Linked DNA regions of Homo sapiens: region 2 is linked to region 1. The links come from fine-mapping of genetic effects on gene expression. A gene starts in region 1. The other region holds a variant in brackets. All regions are shown on one strand. Distances are from middle to middle.

Region 1 (2,901 bases):
TACAAACTATGAGGCCAGCGCCAAACACATGCCCCATTGGCAAAGTGGTCAGGCAAAATGAATACCCGCTCAAAAACAAACTGGCTGTCTTCCTCCCCATCTCCCCCACCCCCCACCTCTAGCTCATTCTGGCCGCAACCTTTCCAACTAATCAGCAAGACACATGTGCCTTGCAGTAGGGCAACTCCCCCATCTCCACCCCCAAAACAAAGCCCCAATGCCTGGCCTGTCCCTGCGGGCCTTATCGCACCCAGGAACATGACCCACACTCCTGGCCGGGTTTGGGACCAAGGAGCGCACCCCCACTAACAAGGGGCAGGGTGAGGGGGCAGCCACCCCTACCACCTCCCCTTCCCATTGGCGAAACAACTGGCATGACAGGTTAGCAGGGCGGGGCGTCGGGGCGGTCTCTCCAGAGGCCTGGGGCAGCTTGTCCGACCTTCCCACACGCACCCCACCCCTCTGCAGGGAAAGGTGAGGTGAGCATTCAGTCTCAGGGCACAGCCTGCACTCCCTAATCCCCAAAGCCTGCCACCATTCACCCTCTCATCTTCTGTCCCAAGAGGAGGGGGCCCAGGGAAGCGGGGTCTCCATTGTTTTGCCAGCTGTCTAGCAGCTGCTCCTTTGAGAGGAGCCCGCAGTCTGCCCGGCAGTGAAAGAGTGAAGGCCGCTGGGAGGGATAAAAGGGTCGGTAGAGGTGCTCCCCTTCCCCGCTGCCTTCCTCAGCGCCCCGCTCTCTCGCTCGCTCCATCGTGGGGCCTGGACGGGGGCAGGAGAAGTCCCCCCACCCTCGAGGCTGCAGCCCCCACCCCGCAGCTCCGGGCCACCTGGGCGCCTCCAAGCCCCAAATCCCCCCACACTGAAGGCCACCCTGTCCTGCCTCCCTGCGCCCCCCAGGTTGGCTGGAAGGGCCGGTGGTTCCCCCTTCCCCGCCGCTCCCGATCGGCCCCCACCCCCGGGCGTCGAGCTCCACGGCGCCGCCAGGGACGGGAGCCGGGAGTCCGGGCCGCTGCTTCCAGGGGACGGGGGAGGAGGAGGAGGAGCCGGCGGGCCCCGCCGCCCGCCCGCCCTCCCTCCCGGCCGGAGCCCGCCCCGCCGCCCCACCAAGCCGGGCCCGCCACCGAGCGGCCGCCGCCGCCGACCGGCACTCACCGGCCACCGGAGCCCGCCCGGCAGGCAGCAGAAGCGGAGACGCGGCATCCAGCAGCCTCGGCCCGGTCAGGGATGGAGCAGAGCGCAGCGCGGCGCAGCTCAGCGCCGCCCCCAGCGACCGCGCAGGCCGAGCCGAAAGGGAGCTCCCTGCTGGCGGCTGTGGGGATAAACGCCCGGCCTGCCTGGCAGCGCCAGTGCGCGCCGCCAGACGTGGGCCAGGCGGGCCGGGCGCTGCCCTGGCAGCCTCCGTCCGCTGTGGACTCCGAAGCCCCTCTCGCTGTGTCTGAGAGAGGCCCTGCCTGGAGTTTCTGTCTGCACTGGGCACTGGAGGCTGTCCGAAAAGGGTCCGAAAGGGGCTGAGTGGCACTGCCTAGGACAGGCACCAGGGTCATGATGAACGTATAGAAGAGGGGCTGTCCAAGGCAGGCACCGAACTCTGCAGGCTGTGTTCAAGGTAGTGCTGTCTAAAGGAAGCAATTAAGTCTTACTGGCCGCCTCCTCCCAAGGTGGCTCTGCAGAGGCACACACAGGGCCCTGCTGGATGGTGCCCCAGGCTCAGTCCAGACCAGGTACTGCCTGCCATGTCCGAGATGGCACTGCCAGAATGCACTCCCCAAGGTAAAAACAGACTCCCAATAGCTTGGTCTGATACAGCCCTGCCTCAAAATGGAGTGGATCAAGAGGCGTACCAGGGCCCGGGAGCCATGGCTGTAAGTGCCACTCACTCCCTAAAGGAGTTCACCAATGCCAAGATTAACACTTTCAGAAGCTCTTTGGAATGCAGTCTGTCCCTGGGTCCACTGTGTGCTGTAAATATCAAGTGAGCTGCTGTACCCACCAAGAAGACAGTTTATACTTCCTGGGAGAGGCCAAGGGACATCCAGATACCAGGCCTCCAAGATAGGTGCTATGTCTAGAGTTTGGAGAAAGAAAGAAATGGGGACACTTCCCTGGGCAGTGTCCATGCTGGAGTGGGGTGTGCCAGAATGTGGAAGAAACTGAGTGGGGTGGTGCAGGAAGAAGGGTGTAGCAGACAAATGCTGCTACCTCCCTAGACAGCCCAAACAGGAACTTCTCCAGGCAAGGGCAGCCCAACCTGACAGACCAGGGAAGGCTGGAGCAAGGAGGCTCAGAAAGCAGAGAGTTGAGTAAGAGTTAGGGAGTTCCTGAGGAATAGACCCAGGCGGGATACACATTTTGGAATAACATGCAACTCAAATTCAATTTAACAAACTGCCTGCTAAGTGCCAAGTGCAGCCCCAGGCACTTGGGGTGACACAGAAGGAGATCAGACATGGCATATCTCCAGGGAAATCACATGGGGAACAGGTAGACCTGAGCTGTGACAGTAGTAGGGTTCACCATGCTGGCATTACTTGGATGATGAGATAGGTGCTATGATGGGAGGCTTATTTGGCTTGAGGAGTGAGAAGAGCAGCTTCAAAAACATGACATTTGAGGCCAGGCATGGTGGCTTATGCCTGTAATCCCAGCACTTTGGGAGGCTGAGGTGGGCAGATCACTTGAGGCCAGCGTTCAAGACCAGCCTGGCCAACATGGCGAAACCCCATCACTACTACAAATACAAAAAATTAACCAGGCGTGGTAGTGCATGTCTATAATCCCAGCTACTTGGGAGGCTGAGGCAGGAGAATCTCTTGAACCTGGGGAGCAGAGGTTGCAGTGAGCGGAGATTACACCACTGTACTTCAGCCTGGGCGACAGAGCAAGACTCTGTCTCCAAAAAAG
Region 2 (2,901 bases), 39 kb before region 1:
ATCCCCAACACGCCATCTGTGCCCCTTGCAAGTGTCCTATGCACAGAAATGGAGGTGGCCATGCTAAGACTACTCTTGGGGACAGCGAGAAGGGTGCTCCCTGACAACTCCAAGGACCATCCCCTCTCAAGGAGGAAGAGAGGAAAGAGCTATACCAGCAACAAAGCAGAGACAAGACTACCGAGGACCTTGGGTGCTGTGGGGCTGGGGCTTTGGAAGAAAACAGTGTTCTAAGGAATGAAGGCCAAAAAAGCACTAATGGTTGGTGGGGAAGGCGTGTCACAGCCTTGGGGGTGGATGCAACCCCAGGAAACTGAGGTTCAGAAGACAGTGCCCCTCCAAAACTCCTGAAGTCATGAGTCAGGCCCAGGATGCCCTGCTCCTAGCCACGGAGGGGTTTTGAGGCTTCCGGGGCTGAGTAACTCCCTTCTTACCAAGAAGCTCGGAGAGGAGCCCCAAGGCTGCCCCACCCCTCTCCCCACCTACTTCAGCCACATCTGGGGAAATCACAAAAAGGTCCCTCCTTTCCTAAATGAGGAAATAGCATGAGGAGCCTGGGACATTTCCGGGGTGGGGGGTCAGAGGGACACTCACCCGCATGGCCTGGCCTGGAGCAGCCCAGAGCAAGGAGACTCCGCTCTGATGCTGCTCTGGCTCCGTTAGCAGCTCAAAATAGCACAGGCTGTGGCCCCGCCCAGTTCCCGCCCTCTCCCCGGCCCCTCCCGTCCCGAGCTGCCCAGCCCTAGTTGGAGCCAGCAGCCCGGAGGACTTCGGGTATCAGGTATGCCAGGAGGGAGAGGGTGATACAGCAGTGTGTGTGGAAGGGAAGGAGAAGGCTCTTAGGGTAAAGCCATTGGGGTGGGGGGCAGGCAGTGTTAGGGGGTTAGGGCAAGGACAGGGAGGGTGAGACTTGCCTATGGACACACACCCCAGCTCCGGGACAGCTGGGCTGATATGGCTCCTAAAAATAGCAGAGGAATTTGAGACCTGCAGCCCCCGGCCCCACAGGCCAAGCTTGAGACAAGCACATGCGCACTCATGTGCATGTACACGTATACACACACACACACACACACCAGCATGCACGAACATTCAATCAACACAGTGTTCTTGAGAACACCCAAATCATAGGCCTACCCTAGCCATCTAATTACTGCGGCAGAGGCCAAGACAGCCACTAACGTCACATCCAAGACAGCACACGGGGCCCACTGCACACTGTGCCCAAACAGCAGCCGCAAAGCAGTCCTGTAAGGTCTGGCAGGAGCAGAGACCCACACGGGCAGGCCCACTTACTGCCCCACTGCCATCAGCACACAGGGGACATGCAGAGAATCAATTACACTCTCTTTGTTTACATCCCTCTCCCCTCCACAGACGCCAGGGACTGCACAGGCAGAGAGGAGGGTGGGGTGGGCCTCAGCCCTGCAGACAGAGGAAGTCATGGGTGTCTAGCCAATGAGTGATGGCTGCCTGTGAAAAGCCAGTGTTTCTTGTGAAGAGAAATCCTGGCCTGGCTCTCCAGTTAGCACCATGGGATGCCTAGACCAGGACTAGGGACCCGCTGAGACGCTGAAATGGGAGCTGGAGAACAGAATGTCAAGGGGCCAAAAGACAGGGAGAGCAAGTCTCAGAAGCCGTCAGCTCTGCAGAAAAAAGGAAACAGTCATTGCCTCCCTCTTCCTCTTTAGGAAAAAAA[A/G]AAAATGGGGTGGGGGTGGTGCTAGGAAGCCCTGATACAGAACCGCCTCCTAACCAGTCTGGCATACACCCCATGCTTCTTGCCCCTGGCCAGCTCTAAGGGCCATTGGTTCTATACATTGTCTGACTTTCTCCATGAAAAGATTGGTAAGCACTGCCAGAGAGGATGGAAACCCAGCCCTGCCTCCTACCTGCCATGCGCTGTCCAAGTCTCACTGTCATATAGTCACATACACAGACTCTTAGGACACGGCGCTTGTGTCCTGCTCTCTAGGGAGTGGGATGTCCCCCCAGGGGAAGCATCTGGCCCTTCTGAAGCACGTGCAGTGTCACAGGTCTTCACATCTTCAGTGGCTACTTAGAACAATGGTGCCAGCCTCAGCTGCTCACTGAAATCCACTGGGGAACTTGAAAAAAATACTGATGCCTGGAGCCCACCCTTTCCCTCTCAGTTTCTGACATAATTGGTCTGGGAGCAGGGGCCTGGGCACTGGGATTTTTTTGTTTTTGTTTTTTTTTGAGACGGAGTCTCGCTCTGTCGCCCAGGCTGGAGTGCAGTGGCGTGATCTCGGCTCACTGCAAGCTCCGCCTCCCGGGTTCACGCCATTCTCCTGCCTCAGCCTCCCGAGTAGCTGGGACTACAGGCGCCTGCCACCATGCCCGGCTAATTTTTTGTATTTTTAGTAGAGACGGGGTTTCACCGTGGTCTCAATCTCCTGACCTCGTGATCCGCCCGCCTTGGCCTCCCAGAGTGCTGGAATTACAGGCGTGAGCCACTGCGCCTGGCTGGACACTGGGATTTTTTATTGATAAAAGCTCCCCAGGTGATTCTCACATGCAGCCAAGGCTGAGAACTGCAAGACTCTAAGGCCAGCATAAGGCCTAGCACAGAAATGTCCATTTGTTAAATGAATGAGTGAATGAATGAATGATTTAGCTGTGTGAACACAGGCAGGTGACTTAAATTTCCCTTATCTGTAAAATGAGGATTACACCTTTACTGACTCTTACCCAACCAGTATGAGACTGGTACATAATGTATGTGAAAGGGCTTTGGTTCTCCAAGTTCTCAGGCCAGCAGCGTGGGCATCCCCTGGGGACTTGTTGGAAATGCAAATTCCAGGAACCCAACCCAGACCTGCTGAACCAAGAACTCTGGATATGGGGTGCAGCATCTGTGTTTTAACTAGGCTTCCAGGTGAT

Evidence for each region.
Region 2: its variant is fine-mapped to the expression of MYO18A in whole blood (TOPMed, PIP above 0.99).

What each region holds. Positions count from the first base shown.
Region 1 is chr17:29,179,161-29,182,061 of GRCh38, forward strand. MYO18A (myosin XVIIIA) reads right to left here and starts at 1,238. Exons shown (of 42, transcript NM_078471.4): 1 at 1,153-1,238. RefSeq lists silencers at 912-961, 1,082-1,131, 1,097-1,317.
Region 2 is chr17:29,139,746-29,142,646 of GRCh38, forward strand. The region is part of intron 2 of MYO18A (myosin XVIIIA); the gene reads right to left. It overlaps LOC124903967 (a long non-coding RNA gene), which reads left to right and starts at 729. Exons shown (of 3, transcript XR_007065693.1): 1 at 729-781. RefSeq lists a silencer at 374-423 and enhancers at 884-973, 1,124-1,173. The variant A/G (reference allele first, on the strand shown) is at 1,700.